2 linked regions of the Homo sapiens genome follow. The protein of the gene in region 1 interacts with the protein of each later gene in a pairwise test. Each region holds a gene or a part of one and is shown in the gene's direction. Other genes may lie near its edges.

Region 1 (7,683 bases):
AGAAGAAGAGCAGAGAGAGAATGGAGCACTCAAAACTATTTGAAGAAAAATGATAGAGACAGAAAGTAAAATGGTGGTTGCCAGGTGCCTGGGGGGAGGAGGAGGAATGTGGAGTTAGTGTTTAATGGGGACAGAGTTTCAGTTTTCCAAGATGAAAAGTTTTGAAGACGGATGGTGGCAATGACCGCACTGCATTATGAATGTATTTAATATCACTGAACGGTACACTTAAAATGGGATAAATTTCACGTGTATTTAACTACAATAATTTTTTAAATATTTGAAGTAATAATGACCAAAAACTTCCCAAATATGATGAAACACATTGAATCTACACATTCAAGAAGCTCCATGAGCTTCAAGTAGAATAAACTCAAAAAGATCCACACAGAAACACAAAATTAAATTATTGAAAGCCAAAGACAAAACAAGAATCTTGAAAGCAGGAAGAGAGAAGATTAACAGCCAATTTCTCTTCAAAAACCATGAAGAACAGAAGGCAATGGGATGATGTACTTAAAGTGCTGAAAGAGAAAAAAACTGTCCACCAAGAAGTCTGTGTCCAATGAAATGATTCTTTGAAACTAAAGGAGAAATTAGGACACTTCTGGATAAATAAATGCTGAGAGAGTTTATTGCCAGTAGGCCTGCCCTACAAGAAATGACAGCTCAGGATGAAATCAAAGGGCACTAGACAATAACTTGAAGCCATATTAAGAAATAAAGAACTGGCTGGGCACAGTGGCTCACGCCTGTAATCCCAGCACTTTGGGAGGCTGAGGCGGGCAGATCAGAAGGTCAAGGGTTTGAGACCAGCCTGGCCAACATAGTGAAACTCCATCTCTGCTAAAAATACACACACAAAAAAAAATAGCTGAGTGTGGTGGTGGGCACCTGTAATCCCAGCTAGTTGGGAGGCTGAGGCAAGGAGAATCACTTGAACCTGGGAGGCAGAGGTTGCAGTGAGCCAAGATCGTGCCACTGCTCTCCAGCCTGGGTGGCAGTGCAAGACTCCATCTCAAAAAGAAAAAGAAGAAAAGAAATAAAGAACACTAATAAAGGTATCAGTTTTGGTAGTTTGTATGTTAATAGGAATTTATCCATTACATCTAGGTTATCTACATTATGAATGTATTTAATATCACTAAACATGCTTAAATGGAATAAATTTTATTGATTTTATGTGTTAGTGTACAATTGTTCATATATTCTCTTATAGTCTTTTTTATCTATATAGGTCAGCAGTAATGTTCCCACTTTCATTTCTGATTTTAATAATTAGAGCCTTCTCTTTTTTCTCAGTCTAGTTAAAGGTTTGTAAATTTTATTGTTGCTTTCAAAAAACTAATTTTAGGCTTCGTTGGTTCCATTGTTTTTCTATTCTCAATTTCTTTATTTGCTCCCTGTATTCTACATATAATCTTTATTTTCTTCCTTCTTCTAGGTTTTGGTTTAGTTTGCTCTTCCTTTTCCTGGTTCCTTAAGGTGTGAAGTTAGATTACTGAATTGAGATCTTTCTTGTTTTTTAATATAAGCATTTATAGCTACAAATTTCCCTCCATAAACTGTTTTGCCGTATCCCATAAGTTTTGGTTTGTTATATTGTCACTGTCATTTATCCCATAGTATTTTCTAACTTCTCTTTTGATTTATTCTTCAATCAACTGGTTGTTATAAGTATGTGTTGTTTAATTGCCACATATTTGTGAATTTTCCAGTTTTCCTTCTGTTATTGATTTCTAATTCCCACTGTGGTCAGAGAAGATACATTATATGATTTCAATAATTTTAAATTTATTGAGACTTGTTTTTTGGACTAACATATGGTCTAATCTGGAGAACTGAGAAGAATTTGTATTCTGCTGTTGTTGGGTTGAATGTTTTATACACGGCCATATTAGATCTAGCTTGTTTATAGTGTTCTTCAAGTTCTCTATTTCGTTATTGATCTTTGATCTAGTTCTATTTAAAAATTTTTTTTAATCAGTGGAAGTGACTTATTGAAGTCTTCAAACATTATTGTTGAACTGGAATTGCCTATTTCTTTCTTCTCTTCTTTCCATTTATGCTTGATATATCTTGGGGGTCTGATGTTTGTTAGGTACATGAATGTTTATAACTGATGTTAGGTACACAAATGCTATAAAATGATGGCTTATGCCTGTAATCCCAACTACTCAGGAGGTTGAGATGAGAGGATTGTTTAAGGCCAAGAGTTCGAGACCAGCCTGGGTAACAGAGTAAGACCCTGGTCCCTAAAAAAATATGTTTTTTCATTAGCCAAATATAGTGGTGTGCACCTGTAGTCCCAGCTACCTGGGAAACTGAGGTGGGAGGATCACTTAAGTCCAGGAGTTTGAGGCTGCAATGAGTTATGATTGTGCCACTGCACTCCAGCCTGGGCAACAGGCTGAGCAATACCCTGTCTCTGTTTTAATGGTGCTAGGACAACTGGATATCTACACACAAAATCATAAAGTTGCACTACATCTCACACCAACAAATTAACTAAAAATGGATCAAAGCCCTACATATATGAGATAAAGCCATAAAATTCTTAGAAGGAAACATAAGAGTAAATATGTATGACCTTATTTTGGGCAATGGTTTTTTAGATATGACACCAGAAGCATAAGCAACAAAAGGAAAAAATAGATAAATTGGATGTCATCAAAATTAAAAAGTTTTGTGCATCAAAGGACACTATCAAGAGAGTAAAACAACCCACACAAGGGAAGAACATGCTTGTAAATCATAATTCTGATAAGGATCTAACACCCAGAATATATAAAGAACTCTTATAATTCAACAACAAAAAGTCAACCCAATTTAAAAATAGGCAAAGTCCTTTAATAGACATTTCTCCAAGGAGGATATGCAAATGGATGATACACGCAGGAAAAGAAGCTCAATGTTATTGGTCATTAGGGAAACAGAAATCCACACCACAATGACATGCTGTTGATACTTCATACCCACCAAGATGGCTATAATTTAACACACACATACACCAACAAATAGAAGGTAGCAGATGTTGACAAGGATGAAGAGAAACTGGAATGTTTGTACATTGCTAGTGAGAATATAAAATGGTACAGATGCTGTGAAAAACAGTCTGGCACGTCCTCAAAATGTAAACATGGAATTCCATACAACTCATCAGTTCCCACTCCTAGGTATATACCCAACAGAATTAAAAAGAGGTGTTCAAACAGAAACATGTACAAGAATGTTTATAGGGCCGGGCGCAGTGGCTCATGCCTGTAATCCCAGCACTTTGGGAGGCCGAGGCGGGAGGATCACTTGAGGTCAGGAGTTCAAGACCAGCCTGGCCAACATGGTGAAACCCCGTCTCTACCAAAAATATAAAAAATTAGCTGGGTGTGGTGGTGCGCACCTGTAATCCCAGCTACTTGGGAGGCTGAGGCAGGAGAATCACTTGTACCCGGGAGGTGGAGGTTGCAGTGAGCCGAGATGGGGCCACTGCACTCCAGCCTGGGTGACAGAGGGAGACTCTGTCTCAAAAAAAAAAAAAAAAAAAAAGAATGTTTATAGAAGCACTATTCACACTAGCCAAAAGTTGAAAAGAACCCAAAAGTGCATTAGCAGATGAATGGATAAATGAAATGTGGCGTGTCCCTTTGATGGAATATGATTCAGCCAAGAAAAGGAATGGCGTTCTGAAACATACCCAAACACAGGTGTACCTTGAAAACATGCTGAGTGAACAAAGCTAGACACAAAGACCACATATTCCATGACTGCGTCTATATGAAATGTGCAGAACAGGCAAATCCATAGAGACAAGCAGAATAGTATTGGTTGCCAGGGGCTGGGCATGGCTGCTTAATAGTACCGGGGTTCCTTCGGGAGCGATGATAGTATTCTGGAACTAGGTAGTGGGGATGGTTGCACAACATTATGACTGTACTGTCACTGAATTGCACACTTTAAAATGGGTAAAATGGTACATTTTATTTTATGGTTGATCACAATTTAAATAAAATTACACCTGCCAAGGGTTTCTAAGAATGAAGCCCCTCGCTCTGCAATGCTGGATATTATCAGCATTTTAAATCTTGTTTGCTCTTACAGGTGGGAGACGTGTGTTTAAACCTGAGAAACTTTAGTTATTAATGAGATCAACTAGCTGTTCATCTCATTCATGCTTATTGGAAATTTAAAATTTTTAGTCTTCTATTCATTTCTTTTGTATCTTATCCTGTTTTAGTGGTAAGGACTTCAAATTTTTCACATTAATCTTCCACCTGTCATGGAGATTACAAGTACTTTCTGGCAGTTCATATCTTCATTTGTGTACCCAATGATTCCTTCAGGGCTGTGATGGGAACGTCGTGGATGCTGAGCTGAGCTGAGGCATGTGGACCGGTCTCCAGCACCCAACCCTGCCGGGTTTCCAGGGGACATACGTTGTATGTGTTCTGGTCAAGGTTTATGCTTTCGTTCACATCTGACCCTCTGACATTCCACTGGGCATTTTATACTTGGGTCTGCTGGCTGACGGGCTTCCTTTCCCATTGTATTTCCACACTGTCATGGCAGGGGTACAGGTAGGGGGTGCTGGGTGCAGTGACTTTGTCTCTCATCCAGCCCTTCAGTGAGCGTGGCCTGGGACAGTCACTCTGATCCTAGGTGGACAATGATGTCACCTACAGATACTAGAAATTCACATCACATTTCAACTTCTTGGCATGTGGCTTCAGCCAAAGTGCAAACATAGAGTAAGACCAGGCGTCCGGGCAGTGGGGCTGACTGTGGCCCCATCTGACACTTTTCTCATCCAGACCCCAAGTATCCTCCACTCTCCACGCAACCCTCACTCCACACCTGCCTCTCCAAGGTAGAGGCCCCTCCCCACCCTCAGACCCTGACCTGCACCCGCCCCTCTCAGGACACCTGACCAGGGCTCCAGGGGATGGCAGTCCAGACCCAAAGGCCAGTCCCCAAACCTTGTCCTCCTAATGAGCTGACTGTCCAGAGGCCTTGCCAGAACATTCCATCTCCTCAGAGGAGGGGAGGTCCTCCCTGTCCTCCTGCCCTTGGCAGACATCAGGATCTCAGAAGATCCCAGAGCCCGCCAGGAAGCGCTGTCTTCAAGCATCTTTTCCCAACACAGGCACCTCCGTCCTGGCTCTCCCAATCTCAGCCACGCCAGCCCACCCCGTGAGGTCCCTGCAGACAGAGGCTGGGCCTCCCCCAGGCTGAGGGCCCACGCTGGGCACAGTCACGGGACCTGCCAGGTGGAAGTCACCAGGTCAGCCCCAGAGAGGTCACACCTTCCCTCCTGGTGTTCCCGGGAGACAGGCTCAGCCAGGGGCGCCGGTCCTGCCCAGGACCAGCCAAGTGTTAGGAGCAGAGTGAGGACAAGTCATGGCAAAGGAAGCAGAAATAATGAGGGTCCTCCCGGCTCCAAACACCAACACGGAAGGGGAGGGCATTGCTGAGTCTCCTGCTGGGAAAACACAGGCCCTGGGCATATAAAAGCCCCAGCAGCTGACAGGCTCACACACACACTCACTCACACACTCACTCACTCACACACCTCCCCCAGCTCACCGCCTCCCCACTCCAGCATGGCCGCCTCCACCATGTCCATCTGCTCCAGCGCCTGCACTGACTCTTGGCGGGTAGTCGACTGCCCAGAGAGCTGCTGCGAGCCCTGCTGCTGTGCCCCAGCCCCCAGCTTGACCCTGGTCTGCACCCCAGTGAGCTGTGTGTCCAGCCCCTGCTGCCAGACGGCCTGTGAGCCCAGCGCCTGCCAATCAGGCTACACCAGCTCCTGCACAACCCCATGCTACCAGCAGTCTAGCTGCCAGCCGGATTGCTGCACCTCCTCCCCCTGCCAGCAGGCCTGCTGTGTGCCTGTCTGCTGTGTGCCCGTCTGCTGCGTGCCCGTCTGTAACAAGCCTGTGTGCTTCGTGCCTACCTGCTCCGAGTCTTCCCCTTCATGCTGCCAGCAGTCTAGCTGCCAGCCAACTTGCTGCACCTCCTCCCCATGCCAGCAGGCCTGCTGTGTGCCTGTCTGCTCTAAGTCCGTCTGCTATGTGCCTGTGTGCTCTGGGGCTTCCACTTCATGCTGCCAGCAGTCTAGCTGCCAGCCTGCTTGCTGCACCGCCTCCTGCTGCAGACCCTCCTCCTCCGTGTCCCTCCTCTGCCACCCTGTGTGCAAGTCCACCTGCTGCGTGCCCGTCCCCTCCTGCGGTGCCTCTGCCTCCTCCTGCCAGCCCAGCTGCTGCCGCACGGCCTCCTGTGTTTCCCTCCTCTGCCGCCCCGTGTGCTCCCGCCCTGCCTGCTACAGCCTCTGCTCTGGCCAGAAGTCCAGCTGCTGACAGCCCTGGATGTGATCCGGAGTCCCTTCCCACCAGGGGCTGACCTCCCAGCTGCCCCAGCAAGCTCTGCCCTCTCTGGCTTTGACACCCTCAGAAGGTGGGGCAGGCTCTTTGTCTTGGGGACCAGGATGCTCCCCCAGTCCTTCCCAGATGATGGCTGCCTGTGGGACCCCAGCTACTCCCCCAGACCCAAGTTCTGCAGAACTAACCCCCAGCAGGCCTGGTTCCACCCTGGGCAGCACCCCCTCTAGTTCTAATAAAGCCGCCTCTGTCTCACACCAACCTCTGTCCTGTCTGTGGACCCCCGGGGGGGCACAGGGTGAGGTGGGAAGTGATGCCACCCCTGACTGCAGGGAGAGTCCTGACCCCCAGCAGGCCTGGCTCCACCCCTCTGTCTCTGTCGACCTTCCATCCTGTCTGTGGACCCCCGAGGGGCATGGGATGAGGCAGGAAGCAATGCCTTCTGGTGCTGGCCTCTGTGAACCCTGAAGGCCAGTCTCCCTCTTAGCCCCGTGGGCCCCCAACCCCAGCACGTGGCCCCCCGGCCCATCTTAGGAAAGCTGCCTCTGGAACCAAGGCCAGGAGTTTCGGGACAAAGTGGACCCTGGCAGCACTCTGGGCCCCTGAGCCACATTCACCCTCCCCAGCTCCATGGCTGCCCCCCAGGCCTGGGGTAGACCACCTGGGGCCTGGCTCCACCCAGCAGCCTCACCCCTCCTGTTACCCCTGGGGAGACCAGCTATGGACCACAGTGCTCATCCCTGCAGCCCTCATCTCCTCCACAGTAAGACATTGGGACCACGCCCTCCCCCAGGACTCGAGCCCAGCAGCCCAGTATTCATGGGGTTCTGGAATACCCATTGCTCAGGCATCGCTGGCGAGAGCACAGATGGGCAGGGACCATGGCACCCACTAACCAAGCCTGCGGGCCCCCCTGCCCCATGCGGCCTCACCTAGACATTCAGGGTCCTGGCTCCCTTTTGGTCCCGTGGTCCTGGACTCTGACCCCGAGGACCCTGTCCCCGCACCCCCAGCCTCCCAGGTCTCTCCCAAATAGCCCTCAGCTCTGCCTGCCACCCTCCGTCCCAGATGCCACGTCGGGGAAGTGGCACAAGCTGCTGCACTCTTTCCGCCAGGTCGCTGTGCGCATTTGAGAGCGCACGTCCGGCTCCAGCAAATGACCCTTGCGTGTCAATGACAGAGGCCGCCAGCCCCAGCACCAGGACCTCCCGGAGTCCCACCCCACAGAGCTCCCTGTGGTCAGCACAGCCGCCTCGCTCACTCCCCTCGAGGCAGATCACCCAGGACAACCAGCAGCAGCCGTCCCCAGGGC
Region 2 (6,812 bases), on another chromosome or scaffold:
AACTGAATTTTGTCTCCCCAAAGTTCATATGCTGAATCCCCAACCCCAAATGTGATGGAATTTGTAGGGCCTTTGGCAGGTAATAGGGTTAGATGAGGTCATAAAGGTGGGGACTTCTGTAGGATTAAGATGAAGAAGAGAGAGAGATCACCCTCTTTCTCCATGCCCACACATTGAGGAAAGGCCATGTGAGGACACAGGGAGAAGGTGCCAATCTGAAAGTCAGGAAGAAAGATCTCACCAGACTTTGACCATGCTGACATCCTGATCTCAGACTTCCAGCTTCCAGAACTGTGAGAAAATGAATTTGTATTGCTTAAGCTACTCAGTCTGCAATACTTTGTTATGGCAACCCGAGCTAAGACAAGGAATCCTGGAAATGTGATTTTATTAAACATTTCTGAAGATCAACATTATAACATGTAATAAAGCCTCTCAGAAAAGTTTTGTGATTATTGTACATTTATTTTACCACCTACCAAATACTTCAAATCATCCTTCTAAGGATGGTATAAAACAGTGTCTTGACTTTTTCGAGCTGTACTCATGTAACAGTCTAAAATAAAGGTTGCTAAGCGATAGCTTCCCCAAAACCTGATCTAGCTGTTGTATGTGACTGGCTTTCTCCCACAATCCTTCTTGTCTCTCCCCTTGACTGTAGGCTTGACGGGGGGAAGAAATTATTTTCCTCTTCATCGTAGTAAAATATGTTGCTCTACTCCCAGCCCCTGGCTATTGTTACAGTTCTCCATTTTGCATCCTTCCCCGTTCTACTTCATTGTTTACTTCTTCCTAATTACATCTTTCTTCCAGGTACTTTTCCTTTAAAATAATGTTAAAAAATAAAGAATTAAGTATAATTTGGTGATGCCTCAGGCCTTATTCTGGCAACCAGTTAATCACCATGCCAGGTTTACCATTACAGTTAAACAAAATATTTGAAAGAAGGAAATGAATGTTTTATCTGTTTTTATTTTGAAAAGTCTTAGTAAATATCTTAGTCTCATAATTTCCTGCTTAAAACCATAATCAAACTGTTTCATTTCCATCTTTCTTCAACTTTAAGTTTTACTGCTTACAAAGGAGAAAAAATGGCCAGCTTTACATTCCACAAACTCTACATACCATTCTCTGTCTCACACAAAGCATCTGCAGGACATGTAGAGAAAGCTTTTGTGAAAAGAGAATTTGATAAATGCAAGTTTCCAATGTACTACAAAACTTGTGACAACAGTATCACATGAATTTATGCAATAATCATAATGAAAATATTAATAGAATATAAATACCTGAAGAGTGGCAATGCCAGGAAATGTGAGGTGACACAACAAATAAACTATTTGATTTGTAATATAGCAGATTGACAAGTATAATCTGGCTGCTTAGGTTGGAGCATCATGCTATAAGATAAAGAGTTTTGCTTGCAATGCCTGTGTATTGGCTTTTCCTTCATTAATATAAGCTGTTTTCACATTGCCAATTTTTCATATATATACATACTTTTTTTTTTTTTTTTTAGACTTAGTCTCACTCTGTCGCCCAGGCTAGAGTGGAGTGGCGCTATCTCCACTTACTGCAACCTCCGCCTCCCAGATTCAAGCGATTCTCCTGCCTCAGCCTCGAGAGTAGCTGGGATTACAGGTGCACACCACCACACCTGGCTAATTTTTGTATTTTTAGTAGAGATGCGGTTTTGCCACATTGGCCAGGCTGGTCTTGAACTCCTGACTTCAGGTGAACCACCTGCCTCGGCCTCCCAAACCAATTTTTCTTATAAGTTAATAGAATGACCTGAAAATTTAATTGCCTCCTACCTAGGTTACTTGCTTTTTTTTTTTTTTTTTTTGTTTTGAGAAAAGATCCTACTATGTGGCCCAGGCTAGCCTTAGACTACTGGGAGATCCTCCTGCCTCAAGCCTCCCAAGTTCCTGGGACTACAGGCATTCACCACTACACCAGGCTTTGCCAATTTTAATCTATAGGAGCTTATAGGCCAAATTTTAACCAAAAGTCTTCCCTGCAGTGTTAAAAATGTAAACATTTATTCCCATACGTTTCTAATATAATTTAATAAATACTAGTCAAGTGAAACAGTGGGAGTGGAGAAGGAACAAAGAAATCTGTAACTGGTTGTGAGCAATTCGTTGTAAGTACCACCGTACTTAGACCAGCCCATTTTTAATTTAAAAATGTGTTTTGATCATATATTTATACACTTGACTTTCTCAACCATTTATGAAAACTTAGAAGAGTGGGTGTTCTTTATCAAAACTGAGTTTTTTGAGGTAGAGAGAATAAAATGGTTTGTTGGGAGTTGAGGACAATATTTAGAGTTTCCTGTGTTGCAGACACTTCTCTTCTATTGAGTGAGATGTTGTTAACTTTGTTTCTTGTCTATTAGTGGGTCCTGGGAGAGATCAGAAATTCTGGGATATGTCATCTGCCCTAGGCAAGTCATTCACAATTCTGAGCATGCATACATCTTAGCTGCTTTTGAGTCTCCTACAGAATGATGGTGTGGTAAGCATGGAGCAAAGCTCTTATCACTACCCTTCTAAGGCTGGTGATGCTAGTCACTTCTTAACTTCCAGTTTGGGGAAGAAGTGAGAAGAGAGGTTTAAAAAAAAGGCACTGTTGTATTACAAACCAAAATCAAAAACAGATTTCTATACTAACTACCCTTCCAAAGGTAACACATTAGCTATACCGTTAATCTAGCAAAGCAGGGAGGAAAATGAAGGAGTGCATTTGTTTCATTAGTCTTTTCGTTTTGAGAGGTAGACAGGAGAGATAGAGATACACAAGACTCAAGTTTCTTGATACAGTAAGTATATTAAGAATATAAACGGGTTTGATAAAATGAACATTTAAAAAACATGGCACCAGGCTGATTCTTCTTCCTGCACACCTTAATGCCTAACTTTTGAAAGGACTTGAGACATAAGAATCACAATTTTAAAAAATTATAGTTTCCATGCCTTCATGGTGGATCAATTTCCATAGAAGTCTACCAAAATGACTTATCTCCATCCCAGGGAAGCAACTGCAAGAGGGAAAATGAAAGGAATGCAGTCTTTCTATGTAGGCAGAGTGGACTTAAGTGTGAGTCAGAAACACCGATTTCAGTTTGTGCGCTGCAACTTGATAACTTGGGTGATGTTTGGCTTCTCAGAACTTTGGGAGGTGAATTTGAAAAACAGGTAATGCCACACTATATAGTTCAGAGGATTACCTCAGCTTACAAACAGCAAATGAGACGCAAATGTGAGCCATAATTCACATTTCTAAGCAGTTGGAGCCCTGATATGGCACTGGGGTTACAAACAAGCGGGGAAAAATGTCAACCCAGTGATGTCATACTCCTAGGCCGGGCCCTAAGATTTTTTTGGAACCTGGCGGGCTGAGCACAACAGGGAAAGCCTCAGCACCCTGACTTGGCACAATGGTACCCTTAAGGCTCTTTGCTCACTCAGTTCTTAGTAGCTCTCCTAAAGCATGGTGGTGTTCTCTTCCAGTTCTCTGCGTAGACTTTGCTATGCTTCTCCGCCCACTGCTTCATCCAGAGAAACACTCGTATCCACAGCCTCTCCCCACTTTCCCTCACGCACGGCTCTAGAAAGACGGGGATAGGGCGCGGCTTAGGCTTTATACACCTTGCCAGCCAATGACCGCGCCGTCTCCTTTCCGGTCGGCGATCCGACCAATCCAAGAAGGTTGGTGCAATCTTCGGCTCTACTCGGCTGTTTTCGCTGATGCGGGCAGCTTGGGGGCCGCCGCCGCTAAACAGACGCTTTCCTTTTTAATTTTTTTTCCATGTGTTCACTTCCGGGTCCGGCGTCGATCCGGATGCCCGAGGCAGAAGGATGTTTGACCTCCGGATAAGCGAGGCGCTGCTGTGCATTCATTCCGGGCTGCATCGGTGGCGACAGCAGAGGCTCGGGCGGCGACTCTCCGGCCAGCGGCGGCGGTAGGAGGCACCAGCGGCAGTGCAGGGACCGAATCCGAGCAGCGCTGCGTTACCTCTCTCTCTCGCTCCTTCCCCCCTACCTCGCTCGCTCGCTCGCTCGCTCCCTGCGTGGCTCGCTTTCCTCCTCCGGCCGCCGGCGGGTGTGATGTGCCGCCGCCGCTGCCCCCGCCGGCGCTGACGGACTGGGGGCGCCGCCCGCGCCCGGGACCGACCCCTCTGCTCGCGGCCGCGCCTTTGAGGTAAAGCCCCCTGCGCGTAGGTGCTCCGCTGCCAGCCCCGGCCCGGCGGCTGCCTCGGCGCGGCCGCGGCGCCCTCCCTCCCGGGTGGGGCTGGGGTCCCGGGCGGGTGGGGTGGGGTGCGGCGGGGGCGGCGCCGCAGGCGCGGGTGTCGGGGGAGGGGTGGGCGAGGACCATGGCGGGTGGCCCGGAGGCGTGGGCAGGAGGGGGCCGCGGTCGGAGGCTGAGGGCGCGGAGGGCTAGGGGGCAGCGGGGGCCGCGGGTGGCGGGTCGGGCTGGGTGCAAAAGTTGCCGGAGTGGTGCGGCGCGACTGGGGCGGCGAGGGAGGTGGGCCAACTGGGCCGGCGGGGGCTTCCTTAGGAGAGATTGGGAGGTGGGGAGTGTCGCCCACGGTGCTCCTTGACTGTGTCCAGACAATTACCTTTGGAGTAGGGGCTTCAGGCAGGAAGGAGGCATGGATAGGCTGGGAGGAGGCGACGGGGGCCAGCGTTCAGCTCAGGGATAAACTTCCCGTTGGAGTGTTTAAGGGGTTGGGTGGGGGGACACAGGGATTTACCTGTTTCTTAGAGCTTTGACTCAGCTCAAAACTTAACCAAGACATTAGTCAAAGGTTAGCAAAATCACTCTGATGGTTACTCTCATGGTGCCGGTTTGTTTGTTTATCCCACATGCAGGGGAAGTGACACTGAGAAGCATCGGGTCTCTTGGTCCACAGCCTCCACATTTCTTTTCAGCAGGATGAGGAGGGAGATGTGTGTCTACTCGTGGGGTGGGGGTAGTGAGGCCTGTGTCATGGTCATTCCCCTTCTCCCACCTCATGTTTTAGGGAGGAAAAGTTCAGATGGGGGAGAGAGTGAGTGTGCCTGTGTGTGTGGGAGACAGCTACTGTTGATACACTGTGTGAATTACTTTCAACTCTTTTGTAGTAAGCACCCAGGCTGGTCAGTGGCTCCTTTTAAATCTTCTATTAAAATATTTACTTTAAATTAGAGAATTAAAAATGTACTTATTTTTAATGAATTAAGAAAATAAGTCATTATTTTACTTTTTGCAATTACTTAGTCCGATTCAAATGACATTTGGCCACAGATATGAGAGATGGCAAACTATATCTAAGATGGGATATAAAATGAAAAGTATATACTTTTTAAAGATGTTTCTTTTTAAAGATGTTTCTTTGAAGAATATTGGCTTTCCCGGTAAATTTAGAAGAAAAACATTACAGAAATTGTGAGAATAATGTGGAATTAGATGTGAAACTAGTTTAAGAAAATATTTTTCACCAAAAAAATCAGATCTGGTGTGTGACATTAATAGCTTTCTTTTTTTTTGAGCTGTACTTAGTGTATTTTGTAATTATTTACAAACTTTGCTCCAGTTGTATCTTAGGATAAATTGTCTTATTCTTTTGTATAGTTAACCTTTATAGTTGCACAAAAGATAAAAGATAAAAATTACCTTTATGGACATTGGAAGAAAGATGTTATCAAATACATTGTGTGGCTTTGACATACATTCTTAGCAGAATGTACAGACACTTCTGCTTTATGTGAACTGGCATTTCTGAATATGCATTAAATAGAAGTAATTATTGAAATGGGAGACAGAAAGGTTAATTTTAATGTTGTTATGAATGACATTTTTTTGGGGATCTTGAGAAACGATTGTCTTTACTGATGATTTATTATAGTCATCCACCCCCTTCTGCCATTCATCAGCTTAAACATTAGTGTGTTATGTAATTATTGACATTTTCATCATTAGATTTAGCAAGCATTTACAATATATTAACAAAATCTTCAGTACATGAAAGGCATTTATTACTTCCTTGAAAATAAAGGACTGGAATTAGTGGAATCAAGGAATAGTTTAATTCAACCAGGACCACCTTTACTCTGTGGCAAGGATGGAACAGTGGGTAGAATATGAAGATGAATGAGACTCAGTACTGCCTTCAAGGGAGAAGCAGACATACACAGAGGTAATTCACAGATTCCTGTGGGTTTTGTTGGAGGTGTATTGGAAGCATGGGGTGTGTGTGTGTGAGATACTAATTTTTGACTGGGAAATTTTGAATGGATGTAGAGCTGGTAACACTCCATCTGGGCCTTAACATAGTTTAATAGGCAAAATGGGGACTGAGGGGGTGATGGTGGGGGTAGTTTTCTCGGTGAAGGGAACAGCCTGAGGAAAGGCATGTGATTGTGTTATAGGGCTTGTTGAACTGGACATAAGGCTGTTTTGCCAGGAGGTCTTTGTGGGAGAAGCTATGAAAGTAGGTGGAGATCAGGCCATGGAAGTTCAGCTTGTATTTAAAGATGAGTCAGTTTGAGGCATGAAGGTCCAAATGTACAGATCGTAGGCTGACAGTAGGTAGGCAAATAACGATAGTAAGTTTAAGGAAACAAGTTATAATAAAATAGTCAATTTTCTATCATTGGCACTACTGAAGGAAAGCAGAAAAGTATATAATCCAAAACAATCTATATATAGTTTCGTTAAATTTCTTTATTTGCATTTAAATATGGGTGTGTCTGGTAATCTAGTAATTGGTTATACATGAAATCAATCCAGACTGTAAAAATGTGACTCAGGAAGAAATGAGAAGC

The links. The genes of interacting proteins can lie anywhere in the genome.
Region 2: the proteins of KRTAP10-10 (region 1) and CSNK1G3 interact in binary tests that used the Homo sapiens proteins (3 or more experiments, as listed by UniProt).

The regions. Positions count from the first base shown.
Region 1 is NC_000021.9:44,631,824-44,639,506, forward strand, and holds KRTAP10-10 (keratin-associated protein 10-10), read left to right. Parts: upstream 1-5,532; 5' UTR 5,533-5,594; coding exon 5,595-6,350; 3' UTR 6,351-6,632; downstream 6,633-7,683. UniProt on the Homo sapiens protein: In the hair cortex, hair keratin intermediate filaments are embedded in an interfilamentous matrix, consisting of hair keratin-associated proteins (KRTAP), which are essential for the formation of a rigid and resistant hair shaft through their extensive disulfide bond cross-linking with abundant cysteine residues of hair keratins.
Region 2 is NC_000005.10:123,508,365-123,515,176, forward strand, and holds the start of CSNK1G3 (casein kinase I isoform gamma-3), read left to right. Parts: upstream 1-3,812; 5' UTR 3,813-4,206; intron 4,207-4,753; exon of another isoform or gene 4,754-6,184; intron 6,185-6,812. UniProt on the Homo sapiens protein: Serine/threonine-protein kinase. Casein kinases are operationally defined by their preferential utilization of acidic proteins such as caseins as substrates. It can phosphorylate a large number of proteins. Participates in Wnt signaling.